Linked DNA regions of Homo sapiens: region 1 is linked to region 2. The links come from fine-mapping of genetic effects on gene expression. A gene starts in region 2. The other region holds a variant in brackets. All regions are shown on one strand. Distances are from middle to middle.

Region 1 (8,337 bases), 40 kb after region 2:
ACTTCTGTGAGAATTAAATTAGGTTCTATATATAAAATACCTATTGCCATGCTTCATAAATATTCAAGAAATGGAAGCTAAACAAGTCATACTAATATGTGAATAACAGTTATACTCTCTTTACCTTAATAGAAACATGTTTCTTCTTATAGTTGTTTTTTTACTATTTTACTCCTGAACATCCTTAGAATCTGCAAAAGATTTTTCTATAATAACTCCTTAGTGAGTGATAATAGGAACTCCAAGAATACTTAAAAGGGACTGCAAAATAGTTTGTGTATGGATTGTTTTAAACATTACAGTTATGAAGAAGGCAAAACAAAATGGTAGTTAGCATGCCAGGTGAAGTAGGCCAAAACTAGAAGAGCCATAATAACCATAATAACCAGAGCAAGTTAAGACAGTGGGCAGGCACATGATTTTAGTGCCCAGATAAGATTGCTCTCTCATCCTCTTCTGCCTCTGTTCTCCTCTTACCTTATTACAAGACATTCCCAGAAAAGTCACGCATGTAGGTCTGCATGCAGTGTCAACTGAAAATATCAAACCAGGTATTGAGTGCAGTGTACATAGTTCTTTGATAAATAAGGAAAAGCCAGAGTTGACTTTTGTCCCTTGGATGAATGTAGTGATCCCAATTTGGAAAAGGCGGAGGAAGGCTTATGAAGTTTTATTTTGAAGTGGTGGTACATTAGATGAAAATATTCAGTAGAAAGTTAGTCATAGAGGAAAAAATGTGACCTGCTGATAGAAATAATAATTGAAACTATTAAAATGACCAGGCTCTCCTAGGGAAAGAAAGAGTAGCTAAGGAGAACAGAGTAAACCTAATTTAAAAATAGTAGAAGGATAAAGGGCCAGCAAATGAAGTGGCAGGACAAATAATGTAATGTTTTGGAAGTAACACAAAGTTTCAAAAAGTAGGGCATGATCAGTGATGTTGAATGCAGGAAAGGCTAAAATAAGGTTTTAATATCTGATGAGACAGTGATTATTAGTGATTATTTATAATATGCAGTTTGAGGATTGTGTACAGGACATCAGGGTAACAGTAAGTTTTGAAGAAAATTCTCTGGTAGCCAAAGGGGAAAAACAGTGCACTGATACAATAGTCATAGATCATTTAAAGAAGCTAGATGGTGGAAATGAATAGAAATAAGGGAATAAATTAGAGAAGACTGAAGAGCCAAGCAAAGATTTTTTTTTCTCCAAGGGAACAGAAACCAATTAATGAAGATTAGAAAAACTAAGCAATATTAACTCTAAAGAACAATATCCTTAGGTTTTGGAAAGTAATCAGATGGTTGTTTTTTTAAAATCTACTCCTCTGAACTCCTTTAGAACTGTTACCAAGTGCCAAAGGAGTATAAAATCTTATCGTATTATTATTTTTTTCTGTGTATAATGAGATAAATCATAAATCTTGAGAATTTAGCTGTCTTAAAATTTTTTAGTACTTAACCCCAAATAGAGAAGGTATGTAATAAATGGAGGATGGTCACAATGAGATGAAAAGAATAGCTTCTGGGGATTTTTAGTCTTTGAAACAAAAAGCGAAAGATGAAAAGACATTATAGAGGTAAAAATACTGTGAGATTAAAACAGGGAAATAGACTGATGTTCATACTAATACAACAATAATTAACAATATGATATAAATAGTTTATCTTTAAGGTGACAGTATATTATGGCTGCTTGTATTGAGAAAATGTAGATGGGAGCGTTGTGTTGTCTTTTATCATTTACAGTGCAGCCCATAATTCACAAACCTTAGACTTTTCGTGTTTTACAGTCTGTTGCCAGAATCGGCCAAACTGGAACAAAGTCTGTCTTCTCACAGAGTGGAAATAGCCGAGAGGTAACTCCAATTCTTGCACAAACACAAAGTTCTGGTCCACAAACAAGGTATTTATCATTGTAATTATTCAACTTTTCTTGGCATAAAACTTGATTCTTTACATTTCTTTAATTTAGGCAGATAGTGACTCTCGTGGATTCTAGAATAACTACTGTAAATTTTGAAGATGTAAAATTTGAAACCTCTAACTTACAACACTAATGTAATTTTGAGTTGAGTTTTGTAATGCACAGAAGACAATAGTTAACTAAAGCAGCATTTTAGTTTACTCTGATTGCCTCATGGATTTGTAATTTTCTTCTTATGCACATGACCCTTTCTATAGTTTAGGTACAGATAGGTTTCATACTCCCCTTCCCCACATTATGCATGTCTATAAACAGATTATAAAAATAACAGACAAATAAACTTCAAATAATGAATCTATTTCCACACAGAAATGGTGTTAGATAGGATTTTCTTTTCCTCTTCAAGGACTCAATAGATTATAGCTAACATTTTAAAAGGAAGATACAATTTTCTTTCTCCTTTCTAAAACTGTGAACATGTACCTAAATTTTAAAACAGACATACACACAGGTGTGCATATACCTCCTTGACTATCTAAAAGACCTCTATGTTCCTGTAATGCTCCCAGAATGGTAAGTCTAATCCTCTTGAGTGCCAGCTTGCAGTGATTGCCTGAGGCTCTGTTGTGAGAAGGAACTTGAGACCTCCTGCAAAGCAACATTATATGTAAAAATAATTTCCGATTTGTACATTTCACTTTAGAGTCAAACAAATAGACTAACACTAATAAACATCAGCTCTTTTTTTTATGGAGATGGAGTTTCACTCTTGTTGCCCAAGCTGGAGTGCAGTGGTGTGATCTCGGCCCACCACAACCTCCGCCTCCCGGGTTCAAGTGATTCTCCTGCCTCAGCTTCCTGAGTAGCTGGGATTATAGGCATGTGTCACCACACCCAGCTAATTTTGTATTTTTAGTAAAGACAGGGTTTCTCCATGTTGGTCAGGCTGGTCTCGAACTCCCAACCTCAGGTGATCCGCCTGCCTCAGCCTCCCAAAGTGCTGGGATTACAGGCATGAGCCACCGTGCCTGGCCAACATTCACTCTTAATAATTTTGTGTTCTTTGTATTGTTGATTCCATTTTATCTCCTTAATTGCCTATATTAGTTTTCTAGGGCTGCCATAACAAAGTACCACAACTTAGTGTCTTAAAACAACAGATACTTATTCTCTTACAGTTGTAAAGCCATAAGTCCAAAATCAAGGTGTTGGCAGGGTTGTTCCCCTTCCAAAATCTTTAGAGGAGGATTTTTCCTTGCCTCCTCCAGCTTCTGATAACCCCAGGTGTTCTTTAGCATGTGACAGTATAACTCAGTATCTTCCTCTGTCTTCACATGGTCATCTTCCATGTGTGTTTCTGTATCTAAATTTCCCTCTTGTAAAGACAACAGTTATATTGGATTAGGGTCAACCCAGATATCCTCAGCTTAACTCAATGACATCTGCAAAAACCAAATTTCTGAATAAAATCACATTGACATGTACTGGGGCTTAGGGCTTCAACATATCTTTTGGGGAGGTACAATTCAATATTGCCTTATTAGCAATTGCTCTTTATTTTGTCTTTTTAAAGGTTGTTTGGAGTTTGTAGTAAACATTTTAACTTATCAAGGTTTGCCTTCAAGTAATAGACAATTTCATGTATAGCACAGAACCTTACAATAGTATACTTTCGTGCTCCTCTCTTAGTCTTTATGGGAGGGATGGCTGTAATATATTTAATTTCTATATATGTTATAAACCCCACAGTGCATTATTGTGGTTGTGGTTTCTGCCTTAAACAGTCAGTTGTCTTTTTATAGAGTTTT[G/T]TTTTTGTTTTTGTTTTTGTTTTAGACGGAGTTTCGCTCTGTTACCCAGGCTGTAGTGCAATGGTGCAATCTCGGCTCACTGCAACCTCCACCTCCCCAGTTCAAGCAATGCTACTGCCTCAGCCTCCCATGTAGCTGGGATTACAGGCATGTGCCACCACGCCCGGCTAATTTTTGTATTTTTAGTAGAGACAGGGTTTCACGATGTTGGCCAGGCTAGCGTCAAACTCCTGACCTCAAATGATCCACCCGCCTCAGCCTCCCAAAGTGCTGGGATTACAGGCATGAGCTACCATGCCCAGCTGAAATTTTTTTAAATGAGAAAAAGAAGTCTATTTTATATTTACACACATAACTACAATTTCTGGTGCCCTTTCCTTCTATAGATCCAGATTGCGATCTGATATCATTTTCCTCCACCTTGAAGGACTTCTTTTTAACATTTCTTTTTTTTTTTTTTTTTTTTTAAGACAGAGTCTCACTCTGTCACCAGGCTGAAGTGCAGTGGCACGATCTCGGCTCACTGCAACTTCTGCCACCTGGGTTAAAGCGATTCTCCTGCCTCAGCCTCCCGAGTAGCTGGGACTACAGGTGTGCACCACCACACCCAGCTAATTTTTGTATTTTTAGTAGAAACGGGGTTTCACCATGTTGGCCAGGATGGTCCCGATCTCTTGACCTTGTGATCCTCCTGCCTTGGCCTCCCGAAGTGCTGGGATTACAGTCATGAGCCCCACCGCACCTGGCCTTTTTATCATTTCTTATAGTACGAGTCAGCTGGTAATGAATTTTTTCAGCTTTTGTGGATCAGAAAAAAAGTTCTTATTTCATCTTTATTTTTGAACAATATTTTTACTAGGCAAGAATTTCTTTCTTTTTCTTTTTTTTTTTTTTTTTTTGAGACAGAGTCTTGCTTGTTGCCTGGGCTGGAGTGCAATGGCACAATCTTGGCTCCCTGCAACCTCTGCTTCCCGAGTTCAAGCAATTCTCCTGCCACGGCCTCCCGAGTAGCTGGGATTACAGGCATGTGCTATCATGCTCAGCTAATTTTTGCATTTTTAGTAGAGATTGGCTTTCACCATGTTGGCCAGGCTAGTCTTGAATTCCTGACCTCAGGTGATCGCCCATCTTGGCCTCCCAAAGTGCTGAGATTACAGGCATGAGCCACTACGCCTGGCCAAGAATTTCTAATTGACAATTTTTTTAGGGATGTTGCTTTACTGGTTTTTTGGCTTATATTGTTTCTGACAAGAAATCTGCTGTCAATCTCATTTTTGTTCCTCTATATGTAGTAATATGTCTTTTCTCTGTTTCAAGGTTTTGTTTTTAATTGCTGATTTTAAGCAATTCGATTATGATGTGCTCTAGTGTAGCTTTGTTGTTTCTCGGCCTTTGGATTTATTGAGCTTCTTGGATCTGTGGGTTTATAGTTTTCATAATAGTTGGCTAAATTGGGGGCATTATTTCTTCAAATATTATGTCCATGTCTTACCCTCTCCCTCTGGGACTCCAGGTACTTGTATATTAGATTGCTTGAAGTTGCCCCACAGCTCACTAATTCTTCATTTTTGTTTCCAATCTTTCTCCTCTCCGTGTTTCATTTTGGATAGTGTTTATTGCTATGTCTTCAAATTAATGTTTCTTCAGCAGTGTCAGACCTGTTATTAACCACACCCAGTGTTGTTGGGTTTTTTGTTTTGTTTTGTTTTTTTATTGCAGACATTTGTCTTTCATCTCTAGATTGATTTGGTTTTCTTTCTTTCTTTTTTTTTTTTTTTGAGATAGAGTCTCGCTCTGTTGCCCAGGCTGGAGTGCAGTGGCACAATCTGGCTCACTGCACCCTCCGCCCCTCCTGGGTTCAAGCGATTCTCCTGCCTCAGCCTCCTGAGTAGCTGGGATTACAGGCATGTGCCACTGCGCCCTGCTAATTTTTGTATTTTTAGTAGAGATGGGGTTTCACCATGTTGGTCAGGCTGATCTCAAACTCCTGACTCGTGATCCGCCCACCTTGGCCTCCGAAAGTGCTGGGATTACAGGTGTGAGCCACCGCGCCCAGCCTTTTTTTTTTTTTTTTTTTTGAGACAGGGTCTCACTGTCACCCAGGCTGGAGTGCAGTGATGCTACTATGGCTCACTGTAGCCTCAAACTCCTTGGCTCAAGCGATTCTCTTGCGTTAGCCTCCTGAGTAGCTGGGACTACAGGCACATGCCACCACATGTGGCTGATTATTTTTATTTTTTATTTTTTTGTAGAGACAAGGACAAGGTCTCTATGAGACAAGGTCTTGCTATGTTGTCCAGGCAGATCTTGACCTCCGGGCCTGAAGCAGTCCTGGCTTGGCCTCCCAAAGTGCTGGGCCGACAGGCATGAGCCACCTCATCCAGTCTCTTCTATGTTTTTGAACGTATAGGATGTATTTGTATTTTTTTAATGTTTTTGCCTACTAAGTCTGTTACTTTGTTATTTCTAAGTGTTTCTTATATTACTTTTCCTCTTCATTGTAGATTATATTTTCCTGCTGTTTTCTATGCCTAGTGTTTTTTTTTTTGTTTGTTTGTTTGTTTGTTTGTTTGTTTTTGAGACGGAGTTTCGCTCTGTCGCCCAGGCTGGAGTGCAGTGGCGCGATCTCGACTCACTGCAAGCTCCGCCTCCCGGGTTCACGCCATTCTCCTGCCTCAGCCTCCCGTGTAGCTGGGACTACAGGCGCGCGCCACCATGCCCAGCTAATTTTTGTATTTTTAGTAGAGACGGGGTTTCACCGTGTTAGCCAGGATGGTCTCGATCTCCTGACCTCGTGATCCGCCCGTCTCGGCCTCCCAAAGTGCTGGGATTACAGGCGTGAGCCACCGCGCCCGGCTGCCTAGTGTTTTTTAATTGGATGTCAGTTATTATAAATTTTACTTTTTTTCTTTGAGACAGGGTCTTTTACTCTGATGCCCAGGCTAGAGTACAGTGGTGTGATTATAGCTCAGTGCAGCCTCAAACTCCTGGGCTCAAGAAGTCCTCCCACTTCAGGCTCCTGGGTAGCTGGAACTATAGGCACGTGCCACATATGGCTAATTTTTTTTTAGTTTTGCAGAGATGGGGTCTTGCTGTGTTGCTCAGGCTGTTCTCAAACTCCTGGCCTCAAGCAATCCTCCCACCTCACCCACCCGAGTTGTTGGGATTACAGGTGTGAGCCACTGTGCCTGGCTATAAATTTTACATTGTTGATTACTGGATATTTTTGCATTCCTTTAGGTATTTTAAAGTTTTATTCTGAGATGCAGTAAAGTTGCTTGGAAACAGCTTGATCCCTTCAGGTCTTACCTTTTAAATTTTGTCCAGACAAAAGTAGCCTTAGTCTGGACTAATCTTGTCCCACCATTGAGGAAGTACCCTTTGAGTACTCTCCTCAAAAACCTGTTTAGTATGAGGTTTCTTCACTCTGCCTATTGAAAGTATGAGCTATTCCCAGCTTGGAGTGAGATCCAGTAATTATTCTGTCTGCTTCTTTTCAGTAATACTTTCCCCAGCTTTGGGTAGTTTCTTCACTATAGTACTATAATGTAATTCTGATGCTAACTACCCAAACTTAGCACAGACACCACAGGTTAAGATCACAGTCCCCAACAAGAACTGTCTGAACTGCCCAGTTGTAGGTTCTGGGTTCCCCAGGCCACCCACATTTCTGACCAACTGGCTACAAATTTAAGGATTCCTACTACCCTCTTACATTCAGTAATTTGCTAGAGCACCTCACAGAGTCCAGGAAAGTGCTATACTTAATGATTACAGTTTTATTGTAGATGACATAATTAGGAGATCCATAGGATTAGATATGGGAGGGTCCTGATACAGAGCTTTCATGTCTTCTTTCTGGGCTCACCCTCCCAATGCATCAGTATGTTTACAAACCAGGAATTTGAGCCAAGTTTTGGTGTTCAAAATTTTTATTAGGGTTTTTAAATTATGTAGGTGTGATTGATGGAATCATTGGCCACATGATTGAACTCAATTTCCTTCCCAGAGGAGCTCAGGCTGGTGTTGCTGGCTCAAAGCCCCAGCCCTCTAATCACATGGTTGACTTTTTTTTTTTTGAGACAGAGTTTCGCTGTTGTCGCCCAGGCTGCAATGCAATGGCACGATCTTGGCTCACTGCAACCTCCACCTCCCGGGTTCAAGTGATTACACTTGAACCCGCGAGTGGCTGGGATTACAGGCACCCGCCATCATGCCCAGCTAATTTTTGTATTTTTAGTAGAGATGGGGTTCCACCATGTTGGCCAGGATGATCTCGATCTCTTGACCTCGTGATCCGCCTGCCTTGGCCTGCCAAAGTGCTGGGATTACATGTGTGAGCCACCATGCCCGGCCACATGGTTGACCTTTACAGCACAGCCAGCACCCATCCAGAAAGTATCTAGGAGTTACTTCATTAGCATAAATTCAGGCACGGTCCCAGGAGCTCATAATGAATAACAAAGACATCCCTGTCACTTGAGGAATTCCAAGGACTTAGTAGATCTCAGGAGCCTGGGACGTGGACCAGACAAATTCTTTATTATATAACACTCAAACACCTACACTGATCAATTTTCAACTGAAGACTCTAGGGAAGCCC
Region 2 (8,337 bases):
CTTTGGGAGGCCAAGGTGGGTGGATCACCTAAGGTCAGGAGACCAGCCTGGCCAACATGGCGAAACCCCATCTCTACTAAAAATGCAAAAATTAGCCTGGCATGGTGGCGTGTGCCTGTGGTCCCAGCTACTCGGGAGGCTGAGGCAGGAGAATCGCTTGAACCTGGGAGGTGGAGGTTGCAGCGGGCTGAGATCACACCACTGCACTCCAGCCTGGGTGACAGAGTGAGACTCTGTCTCAAAAGAAAGGAAAGAGAAAGAAAAAGGAAGAAAGAAAGAAAGGAAGGAAGGAAGGAAGGAAAGAAAGAAAGAAAGGATAGTTTTGCCTAAGAAGAATGTGTAGGGTGGGTGAGAAGAAGGCCTAGAACAGGTCCTTGAAGCATGCTTAATATTAAAGGGGCTGGCAGAGGAGCTGCAAAGGAAACCGATTAAAAAACAGAGCAGTAGGCCAGGCGCAGTGGCTCATGCCTGTAATCCCAGCATTTTGGAAGGCTGAGGCAGGCAGATCACTTGAGGTCAAGAGTTCGAGACCAGCCCAGCCAACATGGCGAAACTCCGTCTCTACTGAAAATACAAAAATTAGCTGGGTGTGGTGGCGCACACCTGTAAATTCAGCTACTCAGGGGGCTGAGGCAGGAGAATCGCTTGAACCCAGGAGACGGAGGCTGCAGTGAGCCGAGATAGCGCCATTGCACTCCAGCCTGGGTGACAGAGCGAGACTCTCTCAAACAAACAAACAAACAAAAACAGAGCAGTAGGAGGAAAGCTAGGAGATGGTGTCATTAGAGAAGCCAAAAGAAGAGGATGATTTGACCAAAGAGTAAACATGGTGAGGGTGGGGTGGGGGTGGTGGGGTGCAAGGTCAGGTAAGGAGGCCATAAAACCGCACGCAACAGGGACAAAATGAAGGGTACAGACAAGGAGGACTGAAAGACTTCAGGAGAGTACACTTACTCTGGGCTATGTTTCAGTGGGACCTACATTTTGCTACTGATATCACGTCTAGCTTTTTGAATAGTTCCCTAAATGCCAGCCTCCAAATCTGACTGAATATGAAATAGACCAAGAAGCAGGCTTAGGAGAAAAAATAATTTTCCAATTCCATTTTTGGAATAATGCTGTTGTAACCCAACTCCACTCACTAGCCAAACATATTGGATAACGGATGACAGCAGGATGCCCAAGTGGTTGATGAATAGCGAGTTTAAGTAGGTCAATTAGGAGCAGAGAAGGAAGTAAAAACACTCCAAAATACCCCATCAAAGTACTTCAAACAATGTGGCTTTGCTGTGGATGAGTAGAAACCACAACAGATGTATTAGCCTGGTCAACAACAATCAGAAAGGAGATGCTTTTTTTTTTTTGAGACACAGTCTTGCACTGTCACCCAGGCTGGAGTGCAGTGGCCCGATCTCAGCTCACCGCAAGCTCCGCCTCCCAGATTCACGCCATTCTCCTGCCTCAGCCTCCCCAGCAGCTGGGGACCACAGGTGCCCACCACCACGCCCGGCCAATTTTTTGTATTTTTAGTAGAGATGGGGTTTCACTGTGTTAGCCAGGATGGTCTCGATCTCCTGACCTTGTGATCTGCCCGCCTTGGCCTCCTAAAGTGCTGGGATTACAGGCGTGAGCCAACGCGCCTGGCCTTTTTTTTTTTTTGAGACGGAGTTTTGCTCTTGTTGCCCAGGCTGGAGAACAATGGCGCAATCTCAGCTCACCGCAACCTCCACCTCCCAGGTTCAAGCGATTCTCCTGCCTCAGCCTCCCAAGTAGCTGGGATTACAGGCATGTGCCACCACGCCCAGCTAATTTGGTATTTTTAGTAGAGACAGGTTTTCTCCATGTTGGTCAGGCTGGTCTGGAACGCCTGACCTCAGGTGATCCGTCTGCATTGGCCTCCCAAAGTGTTGGGATTACAGGCGTGAGCCACCTCACCCAGCCAGGAAATGCTCTTTTTTAGGTTAAAAAAAGAAAAAAGGCTTTAGGCAAATTCTAAGCCTATAAGCCAGAGTGCCAAGCATCAGAGGCTCTTTAAATGCTGACTCTAGATCCATATTTTCACAAAGTATCATCTTTATGTATCCTCTGTGGTAAGGTCCTATATTTAGGTTTACAAAACTCTGCTGCACACATACAAGACTTGGGTTGGCAGCATGTTGTGTGAAAAAGAGCTGAGTCCGTAAATGACCACACAAGTTTAGCATGAGCAAACAGTGTCATGTGACTGCTAAAAAATGTAAATACAGGCTGGGCACAGTGGCTCACACCTGTAATCCCAGCACTTTGGGAGGCCGAGATGGGTGGATCATGAGATCAGGAGTTTGAGACCAGCCTGGCCAACATGGTGAAACCCCGTCTCTACTAAAAATACAAAAATTAACCGGGCGTGGTGGTGCGCACCTGCAATCCCAGCTACTCGGGACGTTGAGACAGGAGAATTGCTTGAACCCCGGAGGCGGAGGACGCAGTCAGCCGAGATTGCGCCATTACACTCCAGCTCTGGGCAACAGAGCAAGACTCAGTCTCGGAAAAAAAAAATGTAAATACAACTGTAGTCCACTTTAATAGACGTGTCCAGATAATAATAGTCCAACTGCATTCTGAATTATTCAGAATAAATCTGGAGTACTGTGTTCAGTTGAAAGGGTCACATTTTAAGAGTGATAGCTCTTACTTATCCCTTTCTTTCCATTCCCAATCTTAGATACTCTCATCTCATATCTAGCGTGGTAGATTGTTTCCAAAGATGACCCAAAAACTCCTCCCATGGCACACGCCCTTTGTGGTGTTACTTTGCCACTCTTCCCATTAAGAAGTAGACTATTCCTCCTGGTGAATCCAGGGTGGCTCTGAGTCTTACTCTGACCAACAAGAAGTGATGCTCACAGGCCTAGGCCTAAGGGACCTCACAGCTTCTATTTTTGCGCACTTTGTTGTCAACCACCAAGTCAAGAAGCTGGAGCTAAACTACTGACTCATAAGAGGCCAGTGTGAAAAGAGAGGTCATGCAGAGAAGAAATGAAGGACCCAGCCAATAGCTACCACTGACACCCTAGACATGTGAGTGAAGCCATCTTGAATCTTTCAGCCCTAGCCAAGCCAGTGCTGGTGATGTTCTTCTATATCTGTGTGACTGTCCAATATGGCAGTCACTAGCCACATACAGGGCTACTGAATCCTTGGAATGTGGCTAGGGCATCTGAAGAACTTCATTTTTAATTTCATTTTAACTTAAACTTTAAATAGCTAATGGCTACTTTCCAGGCCAGTGTAAAAGTCTGTTACCACTCAAGTCATCCAGCATAATCCCGCTAAAGCAACTGGGCACAGGGCAGCCAAAAATCATCTTAGCACCTGCCCTTTAGGGGCTATAAGTATATATACAGTGACAAGACAAGGCGGTGGAGAAGGATGCAGTGTAGCTCTGTCAGCCTTGTTTTTAAAAATGAAAGAAAAAATATCTCCCTCTAACATCACCCAAAGGGAAATTTCCAAGCAATGGAATATATCATGATTCTCACATCTAGCCTAGAGAGCTCCTGACTAGAAAAGTAACTTTCAAAAACTGTTTCCTCATCTGCTGAAAAACAAAATTTAAACAGTCCCCTGGTTCACTCTTTTTGGGGGGAGAAGGGGAGCAGAAAGGAAATATGAGAGAGTCTACATTGCATGCTAGACACGGCCACATTTATAATACATCGAATTCTCTTAATCCTTTTTTTTCAAACTAAGCGAACATAAGTTCAGAGAGGTAATTTGCCAAGGACCTATGACTAGTTAGTGCTAAAGATAAAATTCAAAACCAGGCCTCTGAATTTCCGACCCCCTACTCTTCCCACCACAGCGGAATGCCTCACCTATCAAAAATAAAAATTTCTAATGGCCTATTGAGCTTTTCCATGATCTCTTCACCTAAGTAACTATTTCCAATTAATGCCTTCTTAGCAGACTGATCCCATTTTTCCTCCCTTCACTTTCCTATACTTCTTTTTCCTCTAATTTTACCCATCCTTCAAACTCCATTTTAAACTTTTTTTTCCTTCCATAGAACTTTCCTTATCTTATCACAATTGCCCTCTCTGAATTTTTATATTACTTATAATAGGCACCATATAATATAGCGTTCTCTGTTACACTGCTTTTCCCTTAAATAGACCTTAATCTCCTTGAAGACAGAAGCTATCCTATGTCTTTGGGGAGTGGCAATCTTTCCAAATTTCTTTAGCTTTCCCCCAGAGCCGTGAGTAGATACTTCTGGAATGGACGAATGATCTAAACTCAATAGACAAATACTTGTTGATTCATTAAAGACAGCCCCAAACTCTGCTGTTTCACCCTTTGCTTCATAATCTACAGCACACCAATTAATCCAAAAGGGCTGAGGGGCTAATCCACACTGCAGCCCCGCCACGTAACGCTACCCGCCCGCGCTGTCACGCCACGCCCAGCCTGCTGGTTGCAGATTTGGCGTAGCCCAACCCTGGGACGGCCGATTGGGCGTGGTGTGCGTGGCTGAAGGCGTGGCTGAGAAGAGAAACCTACGCTTTGGGTCAGACTCGGTAGCTTCCGGTAATCTTCGACAATTTCCGGCAACGGTTTTCTCTCTCGTCGACCAACCTCGGGTATTTCCGACTCCCTTCGGGCTTTTCCGTCTGGTTCCCGCTCGGCTTTCTCCACTTCGGGTATTCCCGTGTCCCGCTCGGAAGCACTCGGCAATCGCTCGGCCTCCCCCATCCCCCGGTAACGGTCGCTGGTGAGTTTAAATGAGCAGGGGCTGGCCGGGCCGGAGCCGCTACAGGGGGGGCCTGAGGCACTGCAGAAAGTGGGCCTGAGCCTCGAGGATGACGGTGCTGCAGGAACCCGTCCAGGTAATGATAACCTTCTTCTCTGGGGCTTGGCTGGCAGCCTCGGTCGGGAAGCAGCAGCGTAGGGCCACTCCGCGGCCTGGTGCGGCCTAGGCCCGGCTGCTTCTCCCGCCTCCCCTGCTGCCGTGTCCTGCCTATCTTTAGTCAGTTCGGAGGCCTTGCCCACAGCCTAAGCCGTGTTACCTCTGGCCCTACATTACTTCACCCTTAGCGTGAGCGGCTTCGGCGAAAATAACCGCCTTTCCCGTCCGAGCCAACGTCCGGCCAGCCTTTCCTGTCAGTCCAGGGGCCTGGCTTGACTGGGGGTGGGAGATGAGGGGCCGAAAATGCACCCCAAGCGCTCTCTTGCCTAAAAGATGATCGAGAAGCACATTTGATCGGAGCTTGTGTGATCTTCGTGACGGTAGGGCAAGTTTACGGAGGTTTTTTTTATTTTGTCTTGTATGAGAGGGTGGAGGGAGCGTAGGATCGGTCTTTTTAATACTAATTTCTATTTTGGTAACAGACTTCCTATCCCACGTTTCCTTTCTCGGTGAATTTCCCACCGGACAATGATGGTTTGAGAAGACAACTCCAAGCCTCAGTGCTGAGGCGCAAGCACCAATACCAGGGGAGGAGGTGGAAAGGGCACATTTGGGTTGTTTTCATCCTCTCTGATGGGGATCAGGAGCATTTTGTTGTGCATGTTTATAAGGCATTCAGGAAATGAAACACAAATAATGGTGTTTCTGTCCATTTCACTGCCTTTACACCAGGGTATGCTTTGACGCACAGTGCTGTGTTGCATTAAAGGAACCCTATTGGATTTTAAGTGTGTGATGCGGTGCCAAGTCATTTTCCCCCCTGACATCTGGAGAAACTGTATCTTTTGTGCCTTGGTAATGGACCAGGTCTGGGAGACTTCATCCCACTATATGATCTTTAACTTGATCAGAATTGACCTCTATCAACTGCTGTCATTGAGTCATGGACTTTATTTTGAAGTTATAAAGCAAACTGATTTTTAGAAATTCCTTCATATTGCCCTTAAAAGGCTTGAGGTATCAAACAGTAAATATTTTAATATATCACTACTTTCATATTTATTTCATTTTTCTAAACAGCATGAAATACTCATTTCTTCTAGTTTGGTTTTTTTCTCCAGCTGTTTACATATAGCAGCTATTAGTGTTTGAATTAATAAAACGTAAGATTATATCTTATGAAATTTACCTGTCTGTAAGTTGTATTAGTTTTTCTAGAGCTATTTCCATCCAAATTCTTTTTACCAGTATAGTTTCTTTTAAGATTTTTTTTTATTCTGGCTGTAGATGAGGTAATTATATATATATAATTTTTTAAGGCCTAACATGAACTTAAATAGATAAGCAGATTACTCAAGTTATTTAATTTCTGTTGCATATTCTTATAATTTTGTTTTAATAGTTAATGATTTTTTTTTTTTTGCCTTCTCTGGCCCCAGAAGTCTTCTAAAGTGATAAACTAGTTGCATTGATAGACTATAACCACCATTTAATAATAATTTCAGACTTTATAAAAGCATGGAAGGCCGGGCGTGGTGGCTTACACCTGAAATCCCAGCACTTTGGGAGGCTGAGGCGGGTGGATCACCTGAGGTCAGGAGTTCGAGACCTGCCTGGCCAACACAGTGAAACCCTGTCTCTACTAAAAATATAAAAAATTAGCCAGGCGTGGTGGTGGGCGCCTGTAATCCCAGCTACTTGGGAGGCTGAGGCAGGAGAATTGCCTGAACCCAGGAGATGGAGTTTGCAGTGAGCCGACATGGTCCCGCTGCACTCCAGCCTGGGCGACAGAGTGAGACTCCATCTCAAAATAAATAAATAAATAAAAAATAAAAGCATGGAAAAGAAAAGGAATATGTAGCCTGTTTCTAGATAGTACCCATCAGGTTTCCTGTTTGTCCTTAAAGTACTCTGAGCAGTAATACACTTTGATATTTTTAAGGCTTAAATGTCAAATTTGCTTCTTTTTCATAGCAGCATTGTCCATTAGATTTTTGAGATAGTGGTAGAAAGTTTTAGGATATGACTAGGTGAAAATTTTGGTTGTATAGTATAAGAAGCCATTCAAGAATGGATTTGGAACAGTGAGAAGAACAAGCAACTTTGGCTACAATGATAAAGATCAATGATCAGGGATAGTGCTGCAAATGGGAAAGAATTAGGAAGAGAATAAAAATAGGACAGATATATAAGATACTGTCTTTATTAAAAAAAAAACTATGATGACAGATTGCGTGTATTTGGAAAGCAATGAGAGTAAGTTGGAAAATTGTTCTTTCTTGGAATGCCTCAGAGTTGATGGTATTACTAGGCATAGGAAAAAGTTCACAGAAAATATGAAGAACTGTTTTCTGCATTTTTTTTTCTTTAAAGTTTTAATGTAGAATGGCCAGTCCGATATACCATATATGCCTAAATTAAAACTCCGTCTCAAATTACTACCTCTCAGAAGAGTATTACTTTATATTTGAGTCCTTACAAAAGTCTCACATATGAGGCAGAATTTCTGTCAGTTCTTTTATTTTTAATGGTAACTATTTGGAAAGACACACTAGCCTAAGTGACTTCAGTGAGAGCTTTTTGAATATTTATAAAAGTCACCTGGTGAAATTGGTTTTTAAAAAAGAAGCAAAGAGATTTTATATAGATTTAGCAATTATTCCTAGGGGTAAGACTTCACAGAAGTGTTGGATGAAGTTGTAAATAAGCCTTTCGAAAATTAATTTAATAAGCAATATAGCAATTGGGTACTATATACATGATACTGTTTTAGAGATCATTAGATGGTGAAGGAGTACTCTTGGCTGGGGATAAAATGTTCAGGGACAGCATCTAACATGGATTCAAAGAGTAACATATTTTGGCTACTCAATGAGAAATTTAGATTTAATGTGCATTGGTAATGAATAACCATTATATGAGCAGAAGAGTTTTTGAGCAGAGGAATTATGTAATAAAAGCACCACTTTGGGAATATTTATCTGGTGCTGTTGGAAAGGGAGGAAGAGACAAGAGTTAGACATACAGACTAGTAGAATAATCCAACTGCATGATCATGTAGACCAGGGCTGCTTAATCTGAGCACTATTGACATTTGGGGCAAGCTAATACTTTGTTGGAAGCTGTGCATTGTAGAATGTTTTGTAGCATCCCTGGCTTCTAACCACTGGATGACCCCTCCATTTGTGACAACCAAAAATACCCTCTAGACATTGCTAAATGTTGGGGCATTAATTGGGAGTAAGAAGGCAAAATTGCCCAGAGTAAGAACCACTGACGTGCATCTAAACTAAATCAGTATCCTAGAAATTCAATTATAATGTATAATATGAAATTTCAACAGTGATTTTTTTCTTTGTATCTTCTTACATTGTCTGAAGCCTTTATTATCCATTTATTTTATGGTTTTTAAAAAAGGGCAGCTGACTGGGCACAGTGGCTCACGCTTG

Evidence for each region. PIP is the estimated chance that this variant, and not a neighbour inherited with it, causes the effect.
Region 1: its variant is fine-mapped to the expression of CDC27 in whole blood (TOPMed, PIP above 0.99).

Annotation. Positions count from the first base shown.
Region 1 is chr17:47,145,374-47,153,710 of GRCh38, reverse strand. CDC27 (cell division cycle 27) reads left to right here. Exons shown (of 19, transcript NM_001256.6): 9 at 1,793-1,905. Among named protein-coding and RNA genes, the nearest start is that of CDC27, 40 kb to the left of the region's middle. The variant G/T (reference allele first, on the strand shown) is at 3,735.
Region 2 is chr17:47,185,677-47,194,013 of GRCh38, reverse strand. It overlaps CDC27 (cell division cycle 27), which reads left to right and starts at 4,719. Exons shown (of 19, transcript NM_001256.6): 1 at 4,719-4,868. The coding sequence starts at 4,842. It also overlaps a transcript of MYL4 not described here. RefSeq lists enhancers at 4,795-4,984, 4,515-5,111 and a silencer at 5,145-5,194.